2 linked regions of the Homo sapiens genome follow. The protein of the gene in region 2 binds, or shares a complex with, the protein of the main gene of each other region. Each region holds a gene or a part of one and is shown on either strand. Other genes may lie near its edges. A codon is read from its position in the direction of its gene.

What was found.
Region 1: the proteins of EPAS1 (region 2) and EGLN1 are in contact, whole or in part, in a crystal structure (PDB 7Q5X), measured with the Homo sapiens proteins. Residues at the interface, in NP_001421.2 of Homo sapiens: Asp525, Leu526, Glu527, Thr528, Leu529, Ala530, Pro531, Tyr532, Ile533, Pro534, Met535, Asp536, Gly537, Glu538, Asp539, Phe540, Gln541, Leu542; in NP_071334.1 of Homo sapiens: Gln239, Leu240, Val241, Ser242, Lys244, Ile251, Arg252, Trp258, Asp277, Ile280, Arg281, Ile292, Asn293, Gly294, Arg295, Thr296, Lys297, Tyr310 (codon at 8,555), Val311 (codon at 8,552), Arg312 (codon at 8,549), His313 (codon at 8,546), Val314 (codon at 8,543), Asp315 (codon at 8,540), Pro317 (codon at 8,534), Asn318 (codon at 8,531), Asp320 (codon at 8,525), Arg322 (codon at 8,519), Arg370 (codon at 5,094), Trp389, Tyr390.

Annotation. Positions count from the first base shown.
Region 1 is NC_000001.11:231,365,509-231,381,126, forward strand, and holds part of EGLN1 (egl nine homolog 1), read right to left. Parts: intron 8,592-15,618; coding exon 8,472-8,591; intron 5,191-8,471; coding exon 5,054-5,190; intron 4,336-5,053; exon of another isoform or gene 4,046-4,335; intron 2,129-4,045; coding exon 2,061-2,128; exon of another isoform or gene 2,059-2,060; intron 968-2,058; coding exon 903-967; 3' UTR 1-902. UniProt on the Homo sapiens protein: Cellular oxygen sensor that catalyzes, under normoxic conditions, the post-translational formation of 4-hydroxyproline in hypoxia-inducible factor (HIF) alpha proteins.
Region 2 is NC_000002.12:46,289,176-46,305,090, reverse strand, and holds the start of EPAS1 (endothelial PAS domain-containing protein 1), read right to left. Parts: upstream 7,685-15,915; 5' UTR 7,180-7,684; coding exon 7,154-7,179; intron 1-7,153.

The sequences.
Region 1 (15,618 bases), on a different chromosome or scaffold from region 2:
GTGCCTGCAGTCCCAGCTAGTTGGGAGGCTGAGGTGGGAGGATTGCTTGAACCTGGGAGGCGGAGGTTGCAGTGAGCCAAGAATGCACCACTCCCCTCCAGCCTGGGTAACAGAGCAAGACTGTCTCAAAAAAACAAAACAAAACAAAAAAATTTAAACTCTTCTTGTGTCTTTTTCCTTGTAAAACATTAACTAAAAGTTATTGGTAGTAAATGGTGACTGTTTTACAATTAGGTTTCGTTATTGACAATGTCAAAAAAAAAGCAGCAATCTTTAACAGTTCAAATTAGTGTAAGGAAGGACTACAAAACAATCTGATTTTTCAGTTGTAATTAAAGTGCTCCTTTTCTTATTTTAAGTAAAATAAAATTAATCATCAGTCACTGGCAACAATCATTATTAAGAGGTCTTTTAGGGCAAAATTTAATAGTATGAACAGGTTTACAAAAATAGATTGATGTTATTTTGAGGAATAATACTGTAATTTTTTCTCAATTCAGTTTAGATAAATTGTACCTAATATAGAAAAATTATCCCAAATTCAAACTTGATATAAAAAAGGGAGAGATGAAATGAACTCAGCTAGATAACAGATCTGGCAAAATATAAGAATGAAAAAAATTCTACACAGGGCACTTATTTCATATCCAGATGTAAAAACCATTTTCAATTAGTAGCTTATCTTCCTCCTGTAAGCAATCACAGATTTGAAGTTGATCATGCAGTACAAAGTCACAGCAGTCAAAATCTTCTGTTTGATGCAACACAAAAAGTTGTTTCTGTTTCCTTATTAAAATGCGAACTGGTTGTCTATTTTTCTTTATCCCATTTATTCGTATTCACAAGTTAACAAATAGTTAACAATATTGTAGGTGAAGTGGGGTATTGCTGGATCAAAGGCTCTAGAAGACGTCTTTACCGACCGAATCTGAAGGTTTATTGAGTTCAACCCTCACACCTTTTTCACCTGCAAGGTAAAAAAAAAAAAAATTTTCATTCATTCACTAAGCACCAGAGAGCTTCTGCTACTGCATTCCACTGAATTCCTAAGAGTATGGACAATATTTCAACTTTGCAAACATCATCTGAGAACTATCACGCTTGTACTTCCAAAAACTTCCCTCAGCATTCTATTGTGATGAGGTTTCAAATAGTAAACCTTCAAGGATAAAACCATCCTCTACACAGAGATAATGATTTTGTCTTTTTATTTTAAAAGCCATTTGAGTTTCTTCAACAGAGTGTTCAGTGTCTCTGAAAGCACACTGAGCTTGTGCCACAAATAATGGCTTTAAAAATACATAGAAAATGCATGAATATTCCATTTTTATGTAAGGTCGACGTGCGATTAGCAATGGCTCTGGAAAACACAGCTAATCAGTAATGTGAATACTCAGTGGATTTTTGGAGATAGAAAGTAGAGTTAAAGAAAAGAAGGTAAGTGGTCCATCAGATGGGAAACAGACCCCCTGCTCTTGGAGAGGCAGTCCATAAGTGGAAGAGAAGGGGAACTGGCATAATTAAAGGATCTTCAGGTTCAGTACAAGAGTGCTGACCTATGTACACCATTAGCAGATATGGAATCTACATGTCTGTGTCATTTACTGATTTTGGCATTTGAATTCATAATTCTTTGTATTAATTTTCTTCATGTCTACATTTAACATGGAAGACCTAGAGTACTGTTTAGAGCACATCCATTTGAAAAGGAAAGGGTATTAATTTAAGGAGTGAATGAGAGGAAACCATATGGCCGTTACCTAGAGTTAAGTGGCCTTTGACTGAAAAGGATAATCACAGAAAACTCAGTTTGTATGTGAATAATTTACTCAGACTTCTTTGCCTCAAATTTTCCACATCCTTTGACAATTTTTTTGGTTAAAGATAACAGTGAAGATGACTTATGTCTTCTTAAAAAATGAGGCAAATAAGAAATCTGATAAAAAACAAAAAGTAAGTATTCATGGTGTTAACAAAGACTATGCTTGAGTTTCCTGAAAGCATCACCTGATTGCAGGGTATTTCTGTACCAATATATCCTGGCCCCAAATGACGTTTACCTGTTAGATATTTTACTTTAGCTCGTGCTCTCTCATCTGCATCAAAATACCAAACAGTTATTGCGTACCTAAAAGAAAATTTAGAATAGGATAAGAATGATCACACTGCGGGGAAAAAGTGGTATTTTGCTGCAATGGTATATTAAAACTTGTAATGCCAAAATTATGCCTAAACTGGAATGATATCAAAGGATAAATTTAACAGCTTATTTATACAGTAACCAGGGGAGACTAAAATTGATGTCTGAAGTTGATGAGTTTTTGTGACTTTCTTAATACTTATTTCAACTACTTATTTTTTGCAAGGGAACTGCAGATCAGAAAGAGACAATAGGCCGGGCACAGTGGCTCACGCCTGTAATCCCAGCACTTCGGGAGGCCGAAGTGGGTGGATCATGAAGTCAGGACTTCGAGACCAACCTGGCCAATAGGGTGAAACCCCATCTCTACTAAAAAAAAGAAAAAAAAAATTAGCCGTGCATGGTGGCACATGCCTGTAGCCCTAGCTACTCAGGAGGCTGAGAGGCAGGAGAATCGCTTGAACCCGGGGAGGCGGAGGTTGCAGTGAGCCGAGATCATGCCACTGCACTCCAGCCTAGGTGACAGAGTGAGCCTCCCTCTAAAAAAAAAGAGAGACAATAAAAGGGTAAAAGAATGGCTGTTACAGAAAAAGCACATTATCAATAGCACAAGTACTAAAAGAACAGAAAAGAAACAGATAAAAGGACTCAGGGCATTGCAGGCTAACAGTTTCAACAGTCTCTGGGGACATCACTACATTATAGCAAAGAGTAATGATGGATGTTTACAATTATAACCTTGACAGTTAAATTATGCTAAGAATTTTTAAGGATTTTAATCAAAGCAATTATACTGTGTTTTGTGTTTAAACTTTGTCTAAACTTCATTTTTCTGAAAATCTGACTTAGAATATTTCATTCCACCAATAAGTGAGGCATCTCTAGTTTATTAAATACTACAAAAGACATACTTTCTGATACAAATAATGGGGAAAATGTATAAACGCTATAGGAAGTGAAAGTACGCTACAAATCACCAGTTCCTGGGCAGAATATAGCAATTAGTTCAAATATATTGTGGATTGTGGCCAGTGGACACAGGGGAAAAGGCAACATTTATCAGACATACAGCCAGTAATATGACAGAATGAAAAATCACATAATGTATTTTGAAGTAAAGAGTCTGGGAGTTTGGACAACTGGGAGCCTGACGTTTACAGACCCCACCACTGGTGAATCACAGAGCTGAGGTCTAAGGAGGTCTCCTGACTTCCAGACCAGACTCTGCTCTTTCCAGAGTTCCACTACCTTTCTTACCATGTGGCTTCTTCTACTTTTGGGTGGCCTTGGAAATAGGAAAGGGCTCAGATACATAATTTTATGTATCTTTTGCCCATGCCCTAAACTTTTAGTCACTTAGCAATCAGAATTCTAATATCTGGATCAACAACTTACCTTATGTCATTCTAACTTTCCAGCCTTATCACCCATTCTAGATAAGATCAGAATAGGATTCTACTTCAAGAATCCTTTTCGTCGCATGATTTTCCATGCCTTAACTTGAACAACTACGCCTTTTCCCCCAGAACTTTACTAACACGACTGCACCCCTTGCCTCTCCTCACCTAGGCCAGCTGAGCCTCTCCCTTCAAAGCGCACTTGCCCGTCTCTCCAATGTAGCACCACCTTCGTTCCTCAACTCCTGTAGCACTTAGCCTCCATGCCATCTGGCATTTATTTACTATAAACTCCCAAGTATCTGTTATTTATTCATCTAAAAAGGACGTAACCAAACCAAACTCAGGATTTCATAAAAAGGAAGGTCTATGAGGCAGTTACTGTGTCAGAAAATCTTTACAGAAGCAGCAGGGGGCAGAGACAGCACTGGGATGCCACTGGGAAGAGACATGGGATTGAAAAGGGCACATCATGTGATGTGACAGTCTTTCTTTGGTTTCCATTCAGGATTTCTTACAATCTCCAGCTACAACCTGCTTAGCTTGCTACTCAGTACGTGAATTAGGATGCAGGCAACACACCTCAGAAGGCAGGAAGAAAAAAGGCACAGCTGATAATCAAGTCGTTAGAGTCAACCATCATTACTAAAGCCAACTCTCCACCCAGCGCATCTAAGCCTGTGCCTCTTCTTGCCACCCTAGCATCTCCTAAGCCAGATACAGCAAATGAATGCCGGAAGCTCACTATCAGAATGTTCCAAGACCTTTCCATAATAAAAAATAAGTATTTTTTTTTAATGTGCTATTTTTCTACAAATATTTACTTTCATGATAATGTCTACAATATCTTGTTTTCACAGCCAGAGCATTTTAATTGAGTCAGGATAAATGGTTTTTAAAAAAGCATTTGAAATAAAGCACTAAATATAATAGGTTGCAAATACCTTGTAGAAAAAGTATAATGAAACAGATGCTCATTATTTGTAAAGCTAATAGGATCATTTTTCTAACATTAACTCCCACACATGGTAACCTGTTCTCTACTTTTCTTTCTTCTGTTTTTCTCTTCACTTCTACTCTCTGGTTACCTCTGATTTTTCTACTCTGTATCCATTTTCCTATGTTGTCCCTCACCACCTTTTAAAAAACCCTTTTCCTTCTTGATCTTTCTCTCTCCCAAGTAAAATACTCTTACAAAAATCAAAGCATGGATAGTAGTTAAGAGATGCACAAAGCACGGAGAGAGTGCTAGAAAGATGGGAAGGCCTGTGCTTCCCTTTCTTCAGAGTGGCTGTGCAAAGAAAGACACATTTAGTACTAACTGTTAATGAGTCTTATATAATTATTTGAATTCAGATGACTGTGCAACATAAATCTTATACAATTATTCAAATTAAAATGACTGTGAAAAGTACCTGGCAGGAAAATACTCATTAGAAAGCTTTCACGTTTACTCTACAGATTCCCTCCTGTCCTACCATACTCTAAACCAATTTTTTCTGAAAAGGAATACTACCTTGTAGCATATGCTGGTTGTACTTCATGAGGGTTGCGACGGTCAGACCAGAAAAACAGCAGTCTATCAAATTTGGGTTCAATGTCAGCAAACTGGGCTTTGCCTTCTGGAAAAATTCGAAGTATACCTCCACTTACCTAGGAAAAGAGCCAAATATGTAAGCAGGAGTAACCAAAAATGCTACAAGATTAAATTTAGGGGGAAAAAAAGAGACAATTTCAATGTCTTAATTGGATTATTCACAAATACGTCTCAATAAAGTATGAAGATGAGCTGCAATTTTAAAAGTATATGCACTGATGCAAGGACAAATTTAGTTCTTATTTTAGGGATATTTATTTATTTATTGAGATGGAGTCTCGCTGTCACCCAGGCTGGAGTGCAGTGGCACAATCTCAGCTCACTGCAACCTCCGCCTCCTAGGTTCAAGCAATTCTCCTGTCTCAGCATCGCGAGTAGCTGGGATTACAGGCATGCGCCACCATGTCCAGCTAATTTTTGCATTTTTAGTAGAGATGGGTTTTCACCATGTTGGCCAGGCTGGACTCGAACTCCTGACCTCAGGTGATCTGCCCACCTCGGCCTCCCAAAGTGCTGGTATTACAGGTGTGAGCCACTGTCCCCAGCCATTTTAGGGATTTTTATAAATATCTGATGAAACACAAGAATGTTATCTGAATTTAAAAGTCTTAAAATGATGCTTGAAAGCTTTTAAAACTACTAAACGTTTATTTTTGTATGTTAATGATTTGCTTAACCCACCCTTCAAATAGATAGATTTCAAGAAATTTTGACAAAATTATTATTAGAAATAAATTATGTCAAATAGTTTACCATACTTTAAAATTCAATAAACAATAGGATAGTCACAAATACCTCTTACTTAAATAATTCAGTATATCAGTAGAAAGTGTCATCATTTATTATGACCATCATTATTGTCGTCGTCACCATCACCATCAGCATATAGTTCATTAGAACCTGTGGCTCTCCCTTTCCAGACTGGGCCTGATGCACAGATGACTACCTGCTTGTGAAACTTGATTCTACCCATAAAGGATTATTATTTACCTAAACACCAACTAGGCATCAAATCGCACTGGGAACTGTGGTGGGCTCTGGGTGCAGAGTAGGGAATAATGCAGACAGACTTTGTCCTTGCGGGGTTTACGATCTGGGGATAGGCAAAACCCAACCAACCAAGTAGCTCCTTACTCTTGAATAACTACACTCCTAAGCAGGTAGACTCTTAAAATTTAAAGAAACTCTAACACCTGGTCAGGACAACATGGCGTTTGAGCCTAAACCTAGAATCTATAGTTAAAGAAAAGGTTTATCAGGCTCACTGTCAGGTAAGTTAAATTCTAGCTACTTTGATACCCTTGCCAACCTTCCTCAGGTTCCAGTGTTGTTCAGAGTGATTCCCCAGGCTACTATGCAAACATCTAAAGAACCTCCAAACTGAGAACATGTCTTCTTTCCTTTTTTCCTGCTCCCTTCCCTTTGACTCAAGTCATTGGGAGTACCACAGGTGACCTGCTGAAAATGTTTTAAGTGAAATGGCTACTTGACACTTCCACTCTTCCTCCTCTGAATTAGGTGGCCCTCCTGTGTGCTCCATAGCAATCTGTCTTGACACTTTGCATAACTATCTGTAACTGTCAATCTTTCTGATCTGTATCCTCCAATAGATCCTAAGCTCTGCCAGGGCTAATTCCGTTTCTGCTACATCCCTAGCATCCAGAACAACTGACACACTACATATTCAGTGCAATCTAGCATGGAAAATTTCTATTCTACACACAAAAACACTAGGGACGTTTCTCTGCCTATGTCCTAATTTAAAACCTACACATTAATGACCCTGACTAAGTATTATAGAAATTATAAGATCAGCCTAGAAAAAGCCTAACAAAATCTAGAAGTTAGAAGCTGATGAAACACAGTTCTAGCTTTCTAGCTATTCACAAAATCTGAAAAAAAGTCAATTTTTAAATTTTAACTAAAGTTACACCCATCTGTTTTGTGCCTTGGGCTCAAATTCAATTACAAAATTTATTTCTCTACTTCAAACTTTGAAAGCTGTAACAGAAAAACCATGCTTGTTGACATGCCTCAATATATACTCAGCAGAAAGGTCAGCTCCATTTTGAACCTGGACTAGGGCAGAGAAAACTCTTTAAATCAGTGTGTTTTAGAAAGATTAGTGAAGCACTGTGAGCATATTCTAAACTTAAAACACTTTTTAGGGCAGGATTAGGTTTTTGCACATTTAAGACTCAGGCAGTTTCCATTTGTGTGTTTTGGGGGATGCAGAGAAAGAGGTTTTTTAAAGGTTATTTGACTTAAAAACAACAAAAAAAGGCACCCTGGCTACACAGGTATGTTCACTTTGTGAAAATCCACTGAACTATACAAGCCACTTTTCTATTTGAATGTTATACTTAAGATTTTAAAAAATCAACCAAAAAATTAGTCTGTACAGTCTCTAGTGTAGTAATATATGACATATTTTTTAAAAATCATTTAAATTTAATGAGACTCAGGCTAATATTAAGGAAATATATATTTAAAACAAGAGAGATTAAATATATTGTACATTCTAATTGGTTTTACAGGGCTTGTCAGTACTGATAAACTTCCAGTTTTTTAATAATCAGGGAAAGACTGAATCCTGCCTCCAATATTCAATTAAACAACTCAATGCCATATAATATTTTTACAAAAATGCCAAGAATAACATAGCAAATAATCCTTAACAATTATCCATAGATAATCTCCCCCAAAAGCCATTATAAAACAACTGTTCTCAGAAATGTTTTTCTAAAAACTATTAAAAGGAAAATATTTTAATAAAGGTCACCTTTCTAAAAAAGTTAGATTTTAGATAAGTGCTCTAACATCTGAAAATAAATGAATCCACTTTTTAAGATATATCAGTACTTTTTTATATGGTTTTGAGGTATAACTGATATACAAAAATGCATATCTTTAACATTTACAATTTGATGAGTTTGGATATATACGCACACCCTCATGACACACCACAACCAAGGTAATAAACATATCCATCACCTCTCAAAGTTCCGTTTCCCTTCCCCTAACCTCGTGTGTGCGTGTGTGTGTGTGTGTGTGTGTGTGTATGTGTGTGTGTTTAGAACACTGAACATGGAGTCTACCCTCTTAAATTTTTAAGTGCACAACACTACGTTGTTAACTACAGGTATCATGTTGTATAACATAGAGTAGTATTTGTTTCATTTTACAAAAATCCACTCCTAATACCTGAGACTGAAACAAATTTAAGAGGAAAATTTTTAACTGTGTCTGTGACAGTCTTATCAGAAGTATGAAACTTAATGCTTTTGAGAAAAAGACACCTGTAAGAAAAAAATAAATGCTCAATTAAGTTGCATACCTTGGCATCCCAGTCTTTATTAAGATAATATATACATGTCACACATCTTCCATCTCCATTTGGATTATCAACATGACGTACATAACCCGTTCCATTGCCCGGATAACAAGCAACCATGGCCTGTAATAATGATAATAATGATTATTAAAGTCCATGTATAAATAAAAAGAGAGAACAGCTAATAAATCAGATCTCTGATTTTTGGCTACTGATTTACACTTAGATTCTTCTAATAAAAATAATATTTTGTAGATAAGATAAGGCTATTCTACATTAACATTTATAGGGAACACAAGATAGGTTGATGAACAAGGACTGGTGAATTCTGCTTCACAGTGATAACTCCAAAGATCAGAAAAATTTCTTGGTCCTACTTTGACAATCTTTATAAATACAGATAATCAAGATCAAGTACGTTTTTGTCCTGCTCCATGGGAGATTTCAATCTTCCTTGAGCTCACCTCAGAACACCTACTTTACCATCTGATAGGTGAACCAACCCAGTCAACACCCCATCTGACACTGTCTCTGAATGGTACCAATTTTTTTTTTTTTTGAGACAGGGTCTGGCTCTGTTGCTCAGGTTCGAGTGCAGTGATGCAATCATGGCTCACTGCGGCCTCAACCTCCTGGGCTCAGGTGATTCTCCCACCTCAGCCTCCTAAGTAGCTAGGACTATAAGCACGTGTCACCAGGCTGGTTAATTTTTGTATTTTTTGTAGATATGGTGTCTTACTATGTTGTAATAGGGATAATTTAGGAGGTCAACTAAACTCCAAACATTAACTCATTTAGTGTCAGTGATTTTTTTTTAAAAAAAGGACTAAACAAATTAGCTTATGTTTACCCTCTTTCAATCAGAAAGAAAATTATTTGCTCAGATTATAACAAGATATGGTTCAGAAGACTGTTGGATGTTAAGCTTAAAGGTAGAAAAGAGGCCCAAAATAAAAAGCACAAAATAACTTCCATATTCTAGGTGTACATGATAATTAACTGAAATTGGTAATGGTATTTTTTAAAAAATTCTCAGGAATTATGAAGAAAACAAACAAAGACGTTCAAGGTTATGAGCTATTCTTGTTTTTGTTTGTTTTTTTACAGAGTCTTGCTCTGTTGACCAGGCTAGAGTGCAGTGGCACGATCTCAGCTCACTGCCTCCACCTTCCAGGTTCAAGCGATTCTCCTGCCTCGGCCTCCCGAGTAGCTGGGATTACAGGTGCATGCTGCCAGGCCCGGCTAATTTTTGTATTTTTAGTAGATACAGGGTTTCACCATGTTGGCCAAGCTGGTCTTAAACTCCTGACCTCAAGTGATCCTCCTGCCTCAGCCTCCCAAAGTGCTGGAATTACAGGCTTGAGCCACCACGCCACCCGGTTTGTTATGAGCTATTCTTGAAGTCCTTTATTTCTTCATATAATAAAGTCAATGAATTAGTATAAAGTTATCAAACAGTAACCGAATTGTTCTACTATCATATTAAAAGAAAAATGCTAATTTTTAAAACTCACTTCCCATCCCTAAGAAACTAAGAGGCATCTTAAACCTAAATCCTTATTTAAAAATCCTGTTTCCCTAGACACTCTGAATTCACTGCTCTTTATAAGCAGCAGAATTTTTGGAGAACATTATATATGTCTCTGTTTTTCCTGATTCCAGACAGACTTAACAAGTTCCTTCTTTCAGCACTGGAGGTTGGTAACAACCAGGAGTGTGGCATGGGCTTAGTGGGTTTAAGTGCTCAATAAATGATGAGCCCAAATGATTTTCTTGTCACTAGCTACCCAGGAAAGAAGTTTACCTTGAATAGTAACTGTAAGAGGGTACTAATTTAACAATGCAATTACTCCATTTGTGGTTAACTGAAGTAATTATGATGAATTACACAATATATTGTTATTCATGGGAAAGAAGGGGGAAACCTGAACTCTACATCTCAAAAAAGTTAATTTGGGCCTTTCCAACTATCTGGTAACTTCAGCATCTCTTGTGTAAAGAAGGAAGGGGAAAATATTTGTCAGTCACTCACCCCATCACATCCCATATATCCATTTAACAAATACCTCTTGAACATCGACTATGTATATGAAAGGCACTGGGGCTAAAACGATGAACCAAAGAGAAAAGGTCCCTTGCACTCATTTACATAGTCCCTCCTTATAAGAAGTTTTGCTTTCTGTGATTTCAGTTACCTTTGGTCAACTTAGTCCAAAAAATTTAATAGAAAATTCCAGAAATAAACAGTTTATAAATTGCACACCATTCTGAGTAGTGCACTGAAATACCTTGCAGTCCTGCCCCGTTTTGCCTGGGATGAATCATCCCTTTGTCCAGCATATCCACACTGTAGATGCTATCCACCCATTAGTCATTTAGTAGCCTTCTAGGTCATCAGAGCAATCGTCGTGGTACTTGTGTTCAAGGAAACCTTATTTTATTTAATAACAGCTCCAAAGTGCAAGAGTAGCGATGCTGGCATACTGTTATAATTGTCCTATTTTACTGTTGTTGTTAATCTCTTACTTTATAAATTAAGCTTTATTATAGGTATGTATGTACAGGAAAAAATATAGTATATTAGGATTTGGTACTATCCACAGTTTCAGGCATCCACTTGGTCTCGGAAGGTATTGCCCTCAGATAAGAGGGGACTATTGTACTATGAAATCTGGTCTAACAGCATAATTAGCCAATAAACAGATATATAATGTAATGTTAGGTAGTGAAAAGTTGTATTTTCTTAAGATATGAAAAAAATTAGGTATATAGAGAAAGATGACATGATATTCTTGAACAGTGGTTGACATTTGGGTTTAGACTTAAATGAAGGGAGCGGCAAGTTGGGCAAATCTCTGAAGAGAGAGCAATGTGGCAGAGGGAAAATGAGTGCTCAAAGGCTGAACAAGGCAGGAAAGAGCAGCAGGCCAGTGTGGCTGGAACACAGCGAGCACGGGCCAATGTGATCAGAGAGGAACCAGGTAACCTAGAGCTGCAGGGCTTGGTAAGCCACAGGAAGGCCTTTGGATATTGTGCTAAGAAGGGCCAGGAAGCCAACAGAGAATGTATCTGACTAATGTTTTGAGAATATCAGTTTCAAGTCTGTATGAATAAAAACAACCACAACAACCTCAATATCTCTTACCACCTAACATTTATGGGACATTTACTGTTTGCCATGTCCTATCTAAGTAATTTGTGCATAACAAGTTGTCTGACACAACCATGTGAGGTAAACAGTATCACTGTTCTCATCCTCATTCCTCTAAACTGAGGTTTAGAAAGGCTAATTAGTATTCGCAAAGTCACATGACAGGGAATCTGGTTCCAGAACCCATGGAATTAACCACTGTACTAGACTGCAGGAAGCAAAGAGTGAAAAGAGAAGACTAAGTTAGCTATTAAAGTTTCCGGGCAAGAAACCAAAGAGGCTGAGCCCAGAGTAGCAAAGTGGGGTGTATTCTGAAGGCAGAAAACCAACATGATTTGCTAATGAGTGGAGAGTAAGAAGAGTCAAGAATGACTACGGGGTTTTCAGCCTAGGTAAGTAAATGAATGGAGTCACTGTACATGAAAATGGAAACACTAGGTGAAAGAGCAGTTTTAATTACAAGCATCGGGTAGGAGAGGAGTTTATCGATAACTGTCAAAATGAGCCAGACATCCCAGAATAGAACAAAACTGAGGGCACCAGGATTATCCCCCAACCGGGGATCTGTTTGTATTATTCACTTCTAAACTCTTTCCTTAGAGCCCTGGAGCCCTAGGGAGGTATCTAGGGGTAGGGGACTAATTGGGAATGAAGTGATATGAGAAGAGGCCAAACAAGCAGGTTTTAACCCCAACCTTAAACTAGAGGCAGTGCTTAGCTGTTTCCTATACAGTATTTGAATTCCAAGTGAGGATTCTTTGAAAAAATAAAAGGCAGAGTAAAGAAAAGTTTTAAATCTCACGTTTTGAAGAAAAGTTTTAATAAATTTAATGTAATTGTGTTAAGTTCTATAATTCCCAGTATAGCTCAATTATCACCATCTAAATGTATTATTTAAAAGTGGCCATTACCACTTTAGTCTTATCTGGCATTCCCTAGGTCCCTTGTGCTCTGCTCTGGTGACAGGAATACTGAAAAATGAGGAGAAAGGAAGAAGGGAGAGGGGATGAGTGCTCCACAGGGCCTGCATGGATCTGCCAACCCAATTAACTTGCCAATACCAGCCCCAGGAAAGGCAGCAGTTCATGATTATAATTGTAAAAAGAATAACACGAAAAATACCAACATAACCCTATAAACCAGAAAGCCTGAAAAAGAAACAATGCAATCCACCACTATATAATTCTGAGGTAAATTCCTAATTTGCCACCTTATAGAGACACCAACTTTAAATGTTTCAATTTCCCATCGAGAAAAACCTATTTATACATAAACAAAACAAAACAATACTATTTTTTTCTTTTCTGATATGAAAATATATATGATTAAGGATGTTCTTTTTTACGTTTTCAGAGACAAGGTCTCACGACGTTGCCCACGCTGGTCTTCCCCTCCTGGGCTCAAGCAATCTGCCTGCCTCGGCCTCCCAAAGTGCTAGGACTACAGGCGTGAGACACCGTGCCTGGCTGATTGAGAATGTTCTTAAGATAGGAAACAGCATAAATTTGTTTTTCACTCTGAGAATAAAAGGAAGGAAGAGGTCCGCAATGCCTCTGAGGAATCTAGAGACATTTATTTCTAGCATTAGAAGGCTTCAATATGAAGCTGAACCAGGAAACTTATTTTTCTTTTTTGAGCTGAATTATTTTAAAACAGGGATACAAAGCTTAGAGAACTAAACTTTGATGGGTTACAGAACTATTATTTTTACCCTGAATGAAGGGAAAAGGTTTACTATCTGAAAATTTATCCTATTAAACTATATTATCAAAGCACTATGCTTTGACATAGCACTATGCCTTTTGTAGAGGCTGACAGCTAACATTTACTAATCACTTATAGGCCAGGCATGGATTACCTCGGTCATTCTTTACAGCAAACCTTAGGTAGGCACAATTTCTCCCCCCATTTTAGAGACCAGAAAACTAAACTGGAGTGAAAAGAAAAAAATTGCCGAAGGTCAGAGACTCTAAATGGCAGAGGCAGGATATGAACTGAGGCAGAGAAAAACAACTTCCTTCTGTATTCTTCTTCAATTCCTTGCTCCAGTAAGGCATGTATATAGTCCACCCAAGAGTTCAGATGAAATTGGTAATCCAGACTCGTAAGCGGCCCACCACCTGCTGCAGTGGCACATGCTCATGCCTAATGCCCAATTCTCCCATGTCAAGATGTACAGTAAGTCCTCACTAATAGCCTCGATAGGTTCTTGGAAACTTTATGTGAAACAATGTATAATGAAACCAACTTAAGTTTCTACAGCATATTTGTGGTCATAAAACATTGCCAAACTTCTAAATAAAGACCAAAACACTTCTAATGGTAAACCTTGAAATAAATGTGAGCTATATACACATTTAAGAAAGATTAATAAAAACAAGGTAATTATTTATGCCATTAGTCCAGTTTTAGGGTTGCAGGTGGCTGGGGCCTATCCTGGGAGCTCAAAGCACGAGATGGGAGCCAGCCTTGGGCAGGACGCCATTCTACTGCAAGGTGCACTCACACACACCCATATTCACTCACACTAAGATAACAGATACGTCAGTCCACATCCCAAAGATGCACACATTGGGATGTGGGAGGAAACTGGAGCACCTGAAGAAAACTTCGCAGACATGGGGAGAACTTGCATGCTCCACACAGACATTGGCCTCGGCCAGGAATTGATTCTTTATCCCTCATCAACATTATAACAAAACGACACTGAACAGAATAATGTTATTCAAGAACCTGCTGTACTGCACATGGTATTTTTCAGTTCTACAGTTAAATCTTTTTAAGTCTCTTCCCTGCCCACTTCCAAAGCACACATACACATCACTATCACTACCTTGGGGGTCTACAAAAATCTAGTTCAAATACGGAAGAAAACAGGTCATGCTGGAAGGCCATCCAGGTGGGGATGTTCAAAGGGCAGTTGGAAACTTGTGTGGAACTCCAAAAAAAAGTCATGACTGGAAATGTAAATTTAGGAGCCATCTTCGCATGGGATAGCTGAAGCCGTGTGCCTGCCACAGATTGCCAAGGGAGTACAGAGAGAAGAGAACAGAGAACAGATTGTCATGAAATAAAGTCATTTAGAATAAGAACTCCTTGAATGGCGTGAACCCGGGAGGCGGAGCTTGCAGTGAGCGGAGATCGCGCCACTGCACTCAAGCCTGGGCGACAGAGCGAGACTCCGTCTCAAAAAAAAAAAAAAAAAAAAGAATAAGAACTCCTTAAGCCTTGCTGCTTTCTTGATCACAGTAAACAACTCAGTGGTCAAAAGCTGACTTATTATAAATGATTTCTGACTAATTTTTTGACTAATTCATTTCTAAGTGTAAATGATAGGTATATATATATTTTAAAAAGACATATAAGGGCATATAGTTTCCTTAAAAATTAGAAAAATGCTATTATAATAATATTGTGATCAACAATAGTTTTGGAGCTTAATCTTTGTAAATCCTTGATATTTTCCTAAAATTAAATTACTATAAGTGAAATTATTAGGTCTTAAAGCTTTCTGATTGCTGAAATGTTCTCCAGAATTATTGCATGAGCTTATATTCCTACTGGCTTTGTATGAGTGCACACATCTTTTTAACCATTTGCCAACCCAGCATAGTAAGTTTTAATCTTTGAAAACAGCTCAATTTGATAGGTAACATTTATCTTACTAATGTTTTAATTACATCTTATATTTTTAAGTCAGCATTTTTCATATTTTATTGGCCATTTAATTCTTCAACTGCTTGCTCATATCCTTTATCCACTTTTCTACTGGGTTAATCTTTTCCCTACTGAGTTATTATTATTATTTTAGAGACAGGGTCTCACTCTGTCACCCAGGCTGGAGTGCAGTGGCGTGATCATGGTTCACTGCAACTTTGAACATCTGGGATCAAGCAATCCTCCCAAGTAGCTGGGAGTACAGGTACACGCTACCACACCTGGCTAATTTTTTAATGTTTTCTAGAGATGGGCTCTCACTACGTTGTTCAGGCTGGTCTT
Region 2 (15,915 bases):
TCGACTGTGATGCACAGTTGCCAACACGGCTTGCTTCTCTCTTGATTAAGGTATGTGTCAATGCAATTCTGTTTGGCAGCACTAGAAAAACTCAAGGTACCCTCTAGGTTCACAGTGCAGGGGCCAACAGTGTGATGGCTGTTAAGGCTCAGGGCTCATCAGCGAAAGGGCTCTATAGAAATGCAACATGCTATTATCACAACAATCATAGCTATTCTTTATCCCCCTATCCATTCTTTCCTTCCTGTGCTTGCAATTTCAAAAGATCAAAAGAGCCACAGGAAGTCCTGTGCATCTTGATGGTTCTTCAGAAGCCACAGAGGAAGAGCTTCTAACAGGTTCTCCTGCACAATGGAGTCCGAAGGCTGAAGTAATTATTGAAGTCTTGCCACCAGCGAAGGGTGGGATGTGGAAAGCTTTGAATTTCTTGGGGCAGGAGAGAACCACCTCTTGTCAGGGTCTAGGAAAACCCATGAAAAATAAGAAATTCAAGGAGTTCCATGTTGGCCTTTCAGATCTTCAATCCCTATCTGCTTGTGAGGTTTGATGCAAGTGATAAATCACAAAAAAGAAAAGTAATTATAATTACAAGGAAAACAACAAAGGCAGTTGTCATTTATAGAGCACTTATTGTGAGTCAGAAGCAGTATTAAATACTTTATAGATATCTTCAGTAAGGGAAGGGCGTATGGAACACCCATTGAGAGTATAGACTCTGGGGACCTCCTTTACTCAGGTTGAATGCAGCTCTGCCCATGCTACCTATACGACCTTGGGCAGTTAGCCCTTCTAGACTTCAGCTTTCCCATCAATGAAGTGGGGATAATAACAGGGCTTATCTCACAGGATTAAAAAGTTAATCCATGTAAAGTTCTGAGGACGGCACTGGCACAAATAAGACTGTCAGTTTTTTGTGTTGTCCTGATGCAAAATATAATTTCTATTAAGACCACATACATTCCTAGAACATGAAGGTCATCCAAATAACTGTTTGAGGATGATGGAACATTTGAGGATAAATTTGTTTTCACAGTCATTTTTCAGAAGCATTAATAAAATGAATCATACCAGTATTTACCCTGTGCAGGGCACTTGGCTTCCCGTCCTTCCAAGACTGAGGGCAGACATGTAGGTGGACGGACACGCCAGCCAGGGACAGGGAAGATTAAGCGGCACCTCAGAACCTTTACTAAATACACACACCTTCCTCCTCCCCATTCTTCACCACAGGGAGAGGCAATGGCAGTAAAACACAAGAACTGTCTGGGATCTGAACAGGAAGACTCTGAAACATAAGACAGTCACCAAATCAGACATCCAAGAGCAAGGGCTTGCCTTTTCCATATCCTAGAACCTTTGAAAGGCTATGGAGAGCTGAACAGACTTCCTTTAGAACAAGTTGCTTCTATACATAATGTCTTGCACACATTTTCAGAGATTTACACGCCAGCCTCTGAAACCCATTCACAAAGCCTGGTTAAGAAGCTCCCTCTCCCTTCTTGGCCTTCCTGGAGTCATAGCTGTCTCCACTGATATTCTCAGGGGAACAGAAATTACTACCCCTGTTGTCTGTGGAGCCCCACCAGCTCCCTTTCCATGTCCCCACCCAAAGCAAGTGTATAAAGAACAGCAAACATTCCATTTCAGGGGCCTTCCTGTGTATGGTGTCGAAGTACATGATAAGGGATACACCATAGGGAGCCTTGTGTGTTTTCTTTCCTCTCGTTAGCCCTCAAAGACTGCCTTCTCCCATTTGACCTTCCTTCTGAGCCAGTCTTTAAGCTGGTGGTCAGCACCTACTCTGTGTGGTTCCGGGGACACTAGGAACAAATTTCTCCACCTCTAAATACACATAATACTCTTAAATAATTGTGTGTGCTTATGTGTGTGTTGGGGAGGGGGGCGGTTATTACCTGAAATGCTACTCAGAGCTTATCTTTTGCTTCAAAATATTAGATTTCTACAGAAAAGCATGTAGGCTGTCAGCTCTTTATATTTTCTTTCTTTTCTTTCTTTCTTTGACGTTGTCTCGCTCTGTCACCCACGCTGGAGTGCAGTGGCACGATCTCGGCTCACTGCAACCTCCGCCTCCCGGGTTCAAGCGATTCTCCTGCCTCAGCCTCTTGAGTAGCTGGGACTACAGGCATACGCCACCACGCCTGGCTAATTTTTTGTATTTTTAGTAGAGATGGGGTTTCACCATATTGGCCAGGCTGGTCTCAAACTCCTGACCTCGTGATCTGCCTGCCTCGGCCTCTCAAAGTGCTGGGATTACAGGCATGAGTTACCACGCCCAACCCCTTATATTTTTACTTAAGCTTCCTTGTATCTCTTTTTTTTTTTTTTTTTTTTTTTTCCTAATCAGACTAAGCAACTTGATGACCAGGACCATATCCCCTATTTCTTAGTATTCTCTTCAGCATTTTAGCCAGAGTAGGAGTCGGTGTTGAATACAAGTTTGTCATCTTATGGATTATATCTTAGGGTGAATATCAGAGCTGGTGTCCATCATGTGAACAGGCAGCATGGTACTGGTGGGGAGAGGGGTGGAAGTACAGAGTACTAGGGCCCCAGGAGCTAATATTGCTAACTTGACAATATTGGTAAAAGCTAGACCTGTTAAGAACTACCAGCAATGGTTAGTACTGAAAGCAAAAGGGAAGATTCATCAGGCTAAAATAAAAAGGGAAACTAGCAGGTTGGCATAGGGCAGAACCAAGGAAAACAAAACAAAACCCCCAAAAAACTACTAGATTTCCTGAAAAGTGGAAAAGCCTAAATCTCAAGACAATTAATGACAGCAAGTATTTTCAAATGTAGGAGCCTAAAATCCTGGAGCACTGAGAATTATCTAATTGTTTCCTTCCATTTCTAAACACTTTACTTAATAAATTCCTAGAAAGTTGAGAATCACCACTGCCCCCCCCCCCGACGCACGGGCACACACACACACACACACACACACACACACAGAGAGAAAGAGGGACATTCTAAGTAAATTAAACTGTTTAGTCTCACAGTTTTCACTCCTAGTGAAAATGCCAACTAACCCAGTACAAAAATCAATCTAGCAGCTGCTTGAATGTTCTCTACCTCAAAAAGCAATCTGCTCCACTGAGGAGCGGTCCTTGCATTGGTTTTGTTTAATGAGGTCTACCTATATAAGTAGATTTTTTTCTAACTAAAACAATGAATTCATACTTCTCAAAGTTTACAGACACTGGGAACAGCATCAATTCAACTCTGCTTCCTTTTTTTTTTTTTTTCAAAAAGCAAACAGAATCATCACTTCTACTGCAGCCTAAAGGTGTTGATAATTATCCAGAAAAGCAAATCTCCTTTCTATAAGGTTCAGCGGTTTGAGAGTTGTGATGGGGAAGGCACTCCTTCGGAAATCATCCTCACTATCTAGAGATATTTCAGGGCTGGGGTACTCTCCTGTGAACAATAGGAAAATACATACTTAATTGAAAGTAATAAACCAGGGTTCTGACTTTTTTTTTTTTTTTTTTCTTTGAGACGGAATTTCACTCTTGCCCAGGCTGGAGTGCAGCAGCGCTATCTCCGCTCACTGCAGCCTCTACCTCCCGGGTTCAAGCAATTCTCCTGCCTCAGCCTCCAGAATAGCTGGGATTACAGGCACCCACCACCACGCCCGGCTAATTTTTTTGTGTTTTTAATAGAGACGGGGTTTCACCATGTTGACCAGGCTGGTCTTGAACTCCTGACCTCAGGTGATCCGCAGCCTCAGCCTCCCAAAGTGCTGGGATTACAGGCATGAGCCACCGCGACCAGCCCTGACTCTTATCAGCACTAATTTTCCTTGTGACCGGAGAAGTCTTTTAACCTCTCTCGGCATCAGTTTCCTTATCCAGAAAGAGAAAAGTCTGACTAGATGATTTCCATGGTCTCTTATAAAATAATTCTAGGCTCCCTATAAGCACCACTGAAAAAAACTTGAAATGATGGCATTCTTTTGAACTTCATGAAAACTGTATGAATTAAAACTTAAATACTCAAGCCAACAATGTGTTACATCAATTCTGTATCATCCTGCGCTGCTGGTAATACAATGGAAACATATCAAGTGTGGAGGGAATATTTATTTAAAATATATGTTTAAATTGAGAGAAACTGTCCAGCAATATTTTTTCCCTTCAGAGTTGGAATAATGATGGAGTTTGATTTGATTTTAGAAGAGGAACAACTAAGTCCAGCTGTCAGAAGGAGGGGGAGATTGGAGATCCAGGTGTCTCCAATTCCCCTTCCACGCTAGCCCTGTACTGAGCACTACTGTATAAGCACTCTGGGAAGGTGTCTGGACCTAGGTCTGGCTTTGGGACTGGACTTTGATCCCTGATTATCCAAGGATCTCATTTACATTTGCCTGAACCACTCCTCAAACCCCGTGAATCCCAGAATTTCCACATTTTTTTCCCAGTGAAAGGACTCAGGCATTCCTGATAGATGCGTGCACAAAAAGGTGAGTGAAAGTGCAGTACCCCCACCCACCAGGCTTCAGTTTCTGACATCTGTGATGTCACCGCAAATGCCCACTACCACCAAAACTGGTACTATCAAGGACACCCAGCCAACTAACATTTAGAAAGCAAACTCTTTATTATTAAACATTAACATATTTATCGACGTGTGAACATTCTGGGACAAAATCATCTGCCCACTTCTTGACGGGCCATTGTTAGAACGAATATTCCAAATGTTCTGCCCATATTGCATTTGGGGGAAGAAACTGCTCTGCTAAACCAAAGAAACACAAAATGTAAGAACTAGTGGGCAGAATCATCAGCAGAGAGCCCCCTCACTGTCACATCGCCCTTGTGAGGCACTCAGAAAAGCTACAGCAGTCACTTACATGACAACACCAACTTTCAATGTATTGGTTCACATATTTTAATTACATCTTGGTCCCTAAAGAAGCCTGCAGCCAGCAAACAGACCCAGGCACGAAAAGTAAATGAGTCTCAAACTGATTAGCCCAATAGGAATTGGACAACCCCTTAAGGGGCTCTAGATGGTGAAGGACACGCTGTTTGCCCTGCCATTCTGCAGCACAAAAATCCAGGCAGGTCGAAGAGGGCGGACACCCTCGCGTGGCCACCAGCCCGGAGCCGCAGCTCACACAGCGGCCTCCAAGGCGTTTCGCAGGCAGTCCCCACAGTGGTTCTTAAAGCGGCCGCTCTCGCCAATAATTGGGAGTCTAATTACGCAACGTTCTTCCCGCTCCCATTCCCGCTTCTTCTCTCTTTCCAACAGTCCGCTAACGAACCAGGTACTGTAGCTGGGTGTGTCGAAATCATTTTTCCCCTGCTCCCAAGTTTCTCGGTATATACGGTACAAAACTGCACAAAACCCGGCGCTAAGGAGCGCAGGAGGAGCTGACACTTCACACATTTGTCAAGATTACTGTCAGGCCCCACCTCGGCGATTGCCACATTCCCGATAGGCATCGCAGTTGTAAAATACACAAGTTCCCTCCCCGGCTCCGGACCCGAAAGCGTCTGCAGGCGCTGTCTATAACTTTGCTTTTCGATGGTTCAGTCATTATTAGCATTATGATTGGTTTTTACAAAACGCACTGGAATCTTAAGAGTCTTTTCCTTGCTCTGCTGCCTTCAAAAGACATGGAACCCCAGGACTGCTCCGAGGGCCCTGGGAATGTGCCGGCTGCAGTCTCAGGGCTCCCTCACTTGTCTTGGGTCTGAGGGCGCGACGGTGACGAGAAAGGGGGGACTACGGCCAGGAAAGGGGAGCAGGGCCCAATCCCCTCCCCTAGCGATCCCGCAGTGAAGGGCCCGGGCGCCGAGCCAGGACAGGCGCGATTCGCTCCCGTTTATCAAATCCTTATCGGTGCCCCGAGGTGGGAACCGCTGCTTTCGACCGGAGGATACACGGTTTCTGGCTCCAGTCCCGTAGTGGAAGTTGGAACAAGAGCAAATCAACCTCGGCAGTGAGCCCTCCCGGCCAGTCACCTCCCTCCCTTAGCGAGTCGGTCCTCCTCATCCTCGCACCTCTATACCGCCGCTCCGCCGCTGGTTTCCCGCGGCTCAGGCGGTTCAGCCGGCCGCGCGTTGGATTCCAGCTTCCCGCAGCATAGCCTCGCCAAGCCGCGGCCAAGCGCGGGGCTGGAAGCTCCAGGCCACTGGGGCCGCACGGGTGGAGACAGGAGGAGAAAGGGGACAGGCGGCGAGCCGCACACATTTGCAGAAGTTGAGGCCCTGCCTGCTTCTGCGCGGCCGCGCAGAGGGCTCGAACCCTCGCTCGGGTAGCGCCGGGCCCGGCTGGACTGGGAGCGGCCGGGAGAGGGCGAGAGGGCAGCAAGAAATGGCCAGAGTTGCCTCTCACCCAGTGCCGAGAGGCTCGCGAGGGCAGGCGGGCAGATCGTGGCTGCCCTTCTCTGTCCTCTTCGGAGACAGACACCCGGACCTGCCAGGGACATCCAGTGTTGCCGTCCGCTTCCTACACACCGAACCATCTGCCCCCGCAGGGCAATCCAGGTCACTCACTACCTACTCTCCCCAGAGTCAAGGTGCGGCACGAGGAAGTGGGTTCTCCAACCTTCGGTGGGGTCTGGAGCCCGGCAGCGGGGCGCTCTGAAGGGTCCTGGCTCCTCGGTAGGATCGTGTCCCTGAGCCGCTCTCCGCCTCCCGCCCCCCTTTGCCCACTTGGGCCGCGGCGCGGGCACAGGAGCGCATTTGGAAGGACTCCGCGAATCCAGAGAAAAATAGAGACGTGGATGCTGCCCCAAAATGAGAGACCAGAGAAAGTCGAGGACATGCACCCACAAACATTTCCAAGCGCCGGTGGCCACGGTAATCTGCTGCGGGGCGGCTGGGAGATTTTCAAAGGCACCGCGGAAGCACCTCCGACCTCCAGGCCATCTCCCTCGGCCTCCTGGCCTCGCCGTGCGCGCAAATCCCCGACTCCTCCGAGCCGCAGAAGTCTCCACTGCAAAGCTGCTGATCCGCGCCCCCAAACCGGGCACATGCTCTCCCCCTCACAGCCCTCCAAACCGAGCCTCGAGCTCCGAAGACCTCTCAGCACTCTTCTCCCAACCACTCTCGGTCGCGCCTGCCCCGCGCAGCCCGGCCCTGGCCTCGGACCGGCCCCCTGATCGGCCCGGACGCCCGCTTACCTTTTCTTCTCCTTGTCAGCTGTCATTGTCGCTGTGGCCCTTTGAGACGTTCAGACGCCGAGCACCTGGGCTCCCTGGCGGGTGGGGGGCTGTGGCCCTCGTCCGCTCCCCGCGGCCCGGGCGGGTGGTGAAGGTCCGAGGTGCGCGCAGGTCCCGAGCGCCCCGCGCAGTCAGGTGGAAGGTGGCGCGCGGCGGGCTAGGTGCGGGGGCGGGGGTGGAGAAAGGTGACTGGGAGGAACCTGCGCGCGGAGGCGGGGTCCGGGGAAGGAGTGGGTGGAGGCTGTCAGACCCGAAAAGAGGACGGAGAGAAGGGAACCCAAGTTCCTTTTTCCCTGGAAAAGGAGTCACTTTTCTGAGTTTTCAAAGAAAAAAAAAAGTGGCTCGAATGCTGGGAGTCGGAAGGAGTCGGAGGCCGGGCTGAGCTGACCATACAGTCTCAGGACACTGCCGAGGATTGTACGGCCGCCTCAGGAGCGCTGGGGCGGAAGCGCAGCGGGCACCGGACCCGTGTGGCGGTCCGCTCGCGAGTGTAAAGCTCCCGCGGCCGGCAGCCCACTTTAAAAACTCCGTCGGCCGGCTTGGGGCGGGCACGGGGCGGGCGCGGAGGGCGGGGGGCGGGCACCGGCGCGGGTGTGTGGGCGGGCACGCGCCGGCAGGCCCCGCCCGCGCCGAGCTCCGGGCGGCTCACTGCGTCCCGGCCAATGGGGACGCGCGGCCGCAGCCTCTGCCCTGACCCTGGCCCGCCTCCTGCCCCCGCGCTGCGCCCCGCCTCCTGCCTCCGCACTTCGAGGACTTGTTTATGAGGTCGTCTGGGCGGCGGGTAGCGGGGTGGGACTCCGCGTCGGGGAGAGGCAGCCTGCGCAGGGCCGAGGGGCGGCCGGGAGCCGGGCTCCGGGATTGCTGCGGGGGACGGCAGTTGCGCCACAGCGTCGGTGTCCTCGTACCGGCGCCGTGCCCTTGGAACGAGGGCAGGACCGCGGGCAGCGCCGGGCCAGCGCGGAGCCCCTCCACGCTGCTGCGCTCCTGCGTCCCTGGCCCTCGGGCCAGGTGGGGATAATTTCTCGGCCCCCAGCGGCTGCGTTTCGGGCGTGGGCGATGCGCCCTTTTCGGTGGGACGCAGCTGACTTGACCGTCTGGGAGAAGCAGTGCAAGGAAATTGATCTAGGGCTGCGCCTACTCTTCCTTCCCTCTCCCAGCAGGGTGGTTGCTTACCGGCTTGTGCCAGGCGGTTTGGTTTTGGCGGGGATGCGGCAGAGGAGGCCCTTTGAGCCGCCCGAGGCCGGGGCGAGTTCAGAATTGGAGAAGTCAGTCTGGTTCCCCAGTGTGATCTTGGAGTGACAAGAGTTGGCCATGTGCCCTCAAGTCACTGCATCTCAGGCCTGCCCTCTCTGCCGCCAGGGTCGATGGAAGTCCTGGGAAACCCAAAGGCTACAGGTGTTGGAAATTTGTAGATTTAAGGGCTCACACAGGCAACGGTTAGCGCTCAGGGATTTTCCAGCGGCGCTTTTGACGCTGCCTTCCATCTCCGGGCCCAGTGCTCCCCTGCCCCGCGCTGAGCTGTCTCCCACTCGCTACCGGCGATGGGGAAGGGACATCTGGGGAGAGGACAGGGGACGCCCTTAGTTTTTGAAGGCTGTGGAAGGACCCATGAGTTTCACAGGTGTAACTTGAAGTTGGAAAGCGAGGGCCAAAGAACTGGTCTATATCTCTCCCTTTAGCCTCTTGCCACATTTTATACTAGAACGATCTACAGAAGCGATTTGAAGAGAAGGGTAGGTTTCAGCGCCATAATAAAAATGAACACGTGTTTTCCCCGTGTACACAGAAAGGGTTGGGGGAGATACTTTTCAGGAGCCTGGAGAAGGCGAAGTGGGGAGAGGGCAAAAACTGACGAAGAATTGGGAAATACTTTTTTTTTTTTTTTGAGACTGAGTCCCACTCTGTCGCCCAGGCTGGAGTGCTGTGGCCCCATCTCGACTCACTGCAACCTCCGCTTCCCGCGATTCTTGTGGCTCAGCCTCCGGAGTAACTGGAATTAAAGGCGCCCACCACCACCCTCAGCTAATTTTTGTATTTTTAGTAGAGACGGGAGTTTTACCATGTTGGCCAGGCTGGTCTCAAACTCCTGACCTCAAGTGATCTGCCCAACTTGGCCTCTCAAAGTATTGGGATTACAGGCGTGAGTCACTGTGCCCGGCCGGGAAGTAGACGTATTTTGTCATTTTCTCAGATCTCGGGGCACGGAGCACCTATACAGGTTGATAGTCAACGAATTCAAAGATTGCAAATCTCTCTCTAGCGAACTATTTCATGGGGCTGGTGGGTTTCAGGAACGGGGTGATTTGGTACTGGGCTTCTCCAGCCAGCCATTTCTAGTGGACACATTTATGTATTTTAATGAGTTCAAATTGGTAGATAGTTCTCCCTTAACCATAGGCTTATTTCCCTCACTTGGGACTAGAGTGCGGGAAAAGGGCACCTTGGTGGCTTCCAGGTGCCTACAGTAGTTCACCACAACAGCCTCTGAGTCCTGGACTGTGCTTGACAGATCGAGGCAACACCTCCAACCCATAGAGAACATAGCCTTTTAGATCTTGTTTTTAAAGAGGAAAGGCAAGGAGGGGTCACTCAAGACCACATCAACCTAAGAAGACATGGACACATGGGAGGAACAGCACAGACTGGGGCGTGTCAGAGGGTGAGGGGTGGGAGGAGGGAGAGCATCAGGAACAATAGCTAACGGATGCTGGGCTTAATACCTAGGTGATGGGATGATCTGTGCAGTGGACCACCATGGTACACATTTACCTATGTAACAAACCTGCACATCCTGCACATGTACCCCTGAGCTTAAATGTTAGAAATTCCATCAACCATGTTATATAGCTCCTTCCTCTTGGCCAGACTGCACCCTATAAGTGAAGGATCCCCAGGCTAACACAAACAGCTGGCATTGAGTCTGGGATTTTTTTTTTTTCTTTAGACAATCTCACTCTGTTGCGCAGGTTGGAGCGGAGTGGCACGATCTTGGCGCACTGCAACCTCCACGTCCCGGGTTCAAGCTATTCCCCTGCCTCAGCCTCCCAAGTAGCTAGGACTACAGATGTGCACCACCATGCCCGGCTAATTTTTGTATTTTTAGTAGAGATGGAGTTTTGCCATGTTGGCCAGGCTGGTCTGGAACTCCTGGCCTCATGTGATCCACCCACCTGGGCTTCCCAGAGTGCTGGGATTATACGCATAAGCCACCGCACCTTGCCAAGTCCGGGATTTTGGCAGTGTCTGAGATACACCAAAAACTCATTATAATAACTCTCAAAAGGGTTGCACCCAGCCTTGCTTAGAGCAGAGCCGGGTGGCCTGAGATTTCTTCCAGGACTCAGCTCAATAACCTTTGCAGGAAGGAGCTGAGAGTGTAAACCAGATGCAGGCTGTGGCTAGGGTGCATCCAATTTTACTTTTTAGAGCCTGTGGAGAACTAGAGGAGAAAAACTTTGAAAGGTGATGCTGGGGCAGTGAGTGGGGGATGGGGAGCTGGGTCCCCGGATTCAGAGGGGTGTCTTTAGAGACACTGATGTTGTGGCCACAGAGGGCAGCAGAGGACACCGGTAGGCAAAGCTCCCAAGCTGCTTAAAATAGGAGCAAACTGCCCACCTCCCAGCAAATCTCCCTACCTGCCCCCCAACCCTGTATTGGATGGTTTGGGAACAAAAGCTGTGGCACCAGTGAAACACCTATTTGTTTTGACAAGGGACAAATCTGATTCTCTTGCTTCCTCTTTTCTTTGTAGGGTGTGCCCTCAGGAGGATGGGATAGAGATAAAGTGTGAACTTACAAACCTGGCAGAGAGCAGGCACCTGGGATGCAGTGGGCTGGTGGAAGAAAGATGGCCTCAGTACTCCCATCGAAGTAACAGTATGTTCCAGGATGCAGTTGGAAATTAGGTTGGAATGGATGGGATCTAACAGGAACAGCTCTTGGAAGGATGGGCTATCTCATTAGTACCTTACAACTTCCAATGCATTGTCACATATTGGAGTTGGGACCAGGGTGAGGCAAAAGAGGCCTTTAAGAGTCATGCAAGTACACTGGCCTCTGTCCTGCCACATGCCTTATCTCACGTAATACCCATCTGACCCTTGTCTGGCTATTTAGTTGGTTTCGGGGTGGAGAGAGCAGGGGAGGTAAGGAGCAGAGATGGGAGAGAGGACAAGCTGGCAGAGACTCTTTCTCTATGAAAAGCCTTGCCTGAGTCACTCCTTCCCTCACACTTGCATGTTACTCCATCCAAACGAAACCAGCCCCTTTTGTGACTTCACAAAATCTATACTCACACTCCCTGTCACTGAACTCCAGGTCCAGAAAACTATGCCCCCTGTGTTTGGCTTTAGGCCAATGTCGTGAGATATTCCACACAGACATGTGCTGTATCTTCTTTTAAATGTTGTGACTTTTGACCCCACAAATCTAGAATTTGTCATCTTTCAAAAAGAGTTCTGTGATTTCTTTTTTTTTTTTTTTTTTTTTTTGAGGCAAGAGTCAAACTTTTTTTCCTCCTTGAATTCCTAAGTGCTTGCTGGTAAGAAGGATGCAGTTTTAAAGAACCCCAGCTTCTCCATTCCTCACACCTGTATACTGATGACTTGGAGACTAACATCTTCCATTGCTAGGCTTAGGAATGAAGTTTTGCCTCTGAAGGGAGTTGTGCATTTGTAACTGTCATTCAACCAATGGTGAAAGAGTCACTGGTCCAGGGCCAATGTGCTCTGCTGCCTCCGGGAAAGCATAAGACATCAGTCTGTGGAAGAGGGCACTGGTGGTTTCCTTCCCTCCAAGAGGACATAGTTCAGTTGGGTACATACTGCATTTCCCAGATTTTGAATACACACGTTTTAAGGCTTCCAAAATCAGGTATCTTTTGACATGGTAATTCCTTTTCCTCCCCCAATTTTTAATTTGGTAAATATGTACAATTTATATGCTCTTAACATTTTTAAATTTGAAAATCGAGAGCAAAATCTTATAGCCTAAACAACAGGAGTGGTAAGAATTTGGTGGTGGTGAACAACCAGAAAATCTGGAGTCCCAGCCATGTCCACTGCTAGGACCCAGAGAAGCCTAGCCTGGACTGGCCCAGCTGCCGGGCTGATGAGTGTGACCTCTGAGGTGATAAAATAACACCCATGTGGGAGGAATGGCCAATAAGAAGGACATGCCAGCCCCACCTTAGAAAAAGGCATGAGTAGAAATGAAGGTGCTATATCACTAAAAATGATGACATTGGGCCCCAAGCATCCGATTTTCTCTGGCACCTGGCTAAGACAGGCATAGAGGACAGGGCCGGTTGGGGTGTAGTCAGAGACACCCTCCCTATTCTGTGGCATTGCTTTGGCCTGTAGCAAAGTGTTAAAATGGGACTCTTCCTACTTCAGTTTCAACTGAGTTCCCAAGACAATCAATGCCAGCTACTCCCACTTCCAAAATGCGGAACACAAGAGCTCCTTGAAAATGATTTTGTGTACCTTCTCCAGCCACTGTCCACCTCAAGGAAAGTGCATGGATTGATACAGAAGAGGACTCAAAGTTGGAGTTCTAGGATTGAGTTGTCAACATTGTGATCAGTTTTCCTCCCCATACCATGGAGAGAGGACATGCCTTGCTCCTGTCTCTTAAGTCCAGTGACTAGGGCTTACCTGAGACCACACACAGAGCTTGATATCTGTCCCTGGAGCTTGTGGAACACAGGAGACTGCCCACTGGTGAGCAGCTGGCTGAAGAGGCCTATTGTAGAGGACATTTCCATTTGGAAGTCACTCCCTCTTGCCTATATCATGGCAAGGGAGTGTGTGGCAGATTGAGTTTCCTGGAAGATGACTCTGAGGGGGAAGATTAGCATGAGGAAGGTTTATTAGAGTGCTCTTGGGATAGCACCCAGAGGAGGAAAGGAGAAGAAGCAGGATCAGAGAGAAGTGGACCCCCACTGCCCGGATCTGAAGCTGGGATGGCCCTTCAGAGTTGTCCCAAGGCAGAGTCAAGGGGCCTTTCTACCCCTGCCATAGATTGGTCATTGTTCCTGGCTGACCTTGGGGAAAGGCTGTGACCTTGAGCAACAGCATCTGGGGGAATGTGTCCTTCATTCCTAAGGGGAGATCTGGGCAGGGATCACAGGGTCCAGTATGGCATATGGCATGCAGGTACCAGATGTGGAAACTGCAAGAAGAATAACCACCTAGGGCCAGGCACAGTGGCTCACATCTGTAATCCCAGCACTTTGGGAGGCTGAGGCAGGCAGATAACTTGAGGTCAGGAGTTCGAGACCAGCCTGGCCAACATGGTGAAACCCTGTTTCTACTAAAAATACAAAAATCAGCCAGACATGGTGGTGGGTGCCTGTAATCCCAGCTACTCAGGAGGCTGAAGCAGGAGAATCACTTGAACCTGGGAGGCAGAGGTTGCAGTGAGCCGAGATCACACCACTGCACTCCAGCCTGGGCAACAGAGACTCCACCTCAAAAAAAAAAAAAAAAAAAGAATAACCACCTAGAATTAAAGGAAAAAAAAATTTAGAGATGAGGGTCTTGCTATGTTGCCCAGGCTGGAGTGCAGTGGCTATTCACAGGTGTGATCATGGCACATTGTAGCCTTGAACTCCTGGGCTCAAGAACTTCTCCTGCTTCAGCCTCCCAAGTAGCCACTGTGCCCAGCAATTTTTAAGGGGACTCTGTCCACATGGGCTTCTTCAAAAAGACCTTGGCAGAAAAAGGTGGAGGCCCAACTGGAGATAGAGGCTGAAGGAGGACCATAAGTGACCAGCTGAAGGAGAGGCCCCTTTGGACTCTTGAAGACTGCAGTCCCAGGGGACCAAGAGGGTTCCATACAAGGTGACAAAGGTACCAAAGAGGGAAGCACCAGCCATGGCCAGGGAAGGTCAAAGAGATACTTCATCCATGCTAGAAACAAAGGATGGAAGGAGGATGGAAGGAGGGAGAAAAAGAAGGAGGGAGGAAGGAAGGGAAGGATCAAGGGAAGGAGAGAAGGAAGGAAGGAAGGAAGGCAGACAGAGAGGCATCTCCTACTCCTTGTTTTTTATTCTCCCTCCTACTCTACAGGGGCCAAGGTGAGGCTAGTAAGGGGATGGGGTAGAGGTGCTAAATGGGAAAATGTCTTGGCGTCCTCAATGCCTAGCAGGGAACCTGGCATAAAATGGACACTCAAAAAATAATATACGAAGAATGAGGAAAATCTTTGCCCCTTTATGATTCCCAGTGACTGTGTAAGGGCCTTCTATATCTGCATCATTCTGGGGACTGAATGTGGGTCCTTCCAAAGTCATGGTGTTATAGAACAGTGATACAGGGGTGATGTCTAAAGCACACACTGAAGTATCCCCAGACGCACCTGCACATACACACATGTACATGCTCATGTACCTACCTGGTGCCAAGCTCAGAAATAGGGTTCTACACAAACCTCACTGGAAACTTTTCATTTCTCTTCAGTGCATACCTCAGTCTTTGCCCTTTGAAGAAAACCAGGGATGCAATGCTGAGAATGTGACTGTAAATACTTCAGATTTTAAACTCCGAGGATTTTCTCTTGGTCTCCTCAGAGGGTTGTAGTCTGTGGTGTATGGATCCTGGGGTTTCAAGGCCATCTGGCCCCTGTGTGCTCAATGATCTACCCCAGTGGAAGGAAGACGAGAAACAGACATTTCAAAACCTTTAGGCAATGGGTCTTGGCCTGAGACAGAGTTTCACTTTGTCGCCCAGGCTGGAGTGCAGTGGCGCAATCTCCACTCACTGCAACCTCCGCCTCCTGGGTTCAAGTGATTCTTGTGCCTCAGCCTCTTGAGTAGCAGGGATTACAGGCACGCACCACCATACCTGGCTAACTTTTTGTATTTTTAGTAGAGGCAGGGTTTCACCATGTTGGCCAGGCTGGTCTCGAAATCTTGGCCTCAAGTGATCCACCCACCTCAGCCTCCCAAAGTGCTGGGATTACAGATGTGAGCCGCCGCACCCAGCCAGCATGCCCTATCTTAATTGTTAATTTTCTATGATAGCAGATTAGCTCTCCTAATTACTTCTATCTTAGGCTAGATTAAAATGCATCCTGATCAGATAGTAATTTATGGTGAAGAGATGCCTTCTGGCCTAAAAACATGCCAGGGGTAAATCTCTAAGTAGATGACCTCAAGGCAGAGAACCCAGAGTGCACTGTGTATGAAAGAATTACGGAGTGAAGTTCATGTGCCCAAGGTTTTAAAGAATAATTAAGAGCCTAATTATAAGAGTACTGAAAAGAGCCATACACAATTCCAAGTTAGCTTTGCCTGTTAAGAGTAGAAAGCTCATTTTATAAGTAATAAAACGATGGTGTTTACACAATGCAGCTTTCCAATTTCCTTTTCAAATTCCACTGTGCTTGAGGCACCATCCCCTTTGACTGCATGCATTCTGATCTTTGTTGAATTAATTTCATCTAGTAATTCTTCTACTCATTGGCATCTATTGACTGTCCAGTCCATATGCATGGATGTGGTTGAAACTCAGCTGAGAAAGATGAATGACACACGGCTCTACCCTCTAAAGCTCACTCTCTCCTATTGGAGACAGACTTCTAAACAAAATACTACACCTCCAAAGAGAAAACCCCATTTTTCTGGGAGCTCAGAATGGGAAATGACTCTGCCTGGGGATGGAGGTGGGAGGGAGGAGAACTTAGGGAAGGCTTCTAGAAAAGGTGACATTTTGGCTGCAGCT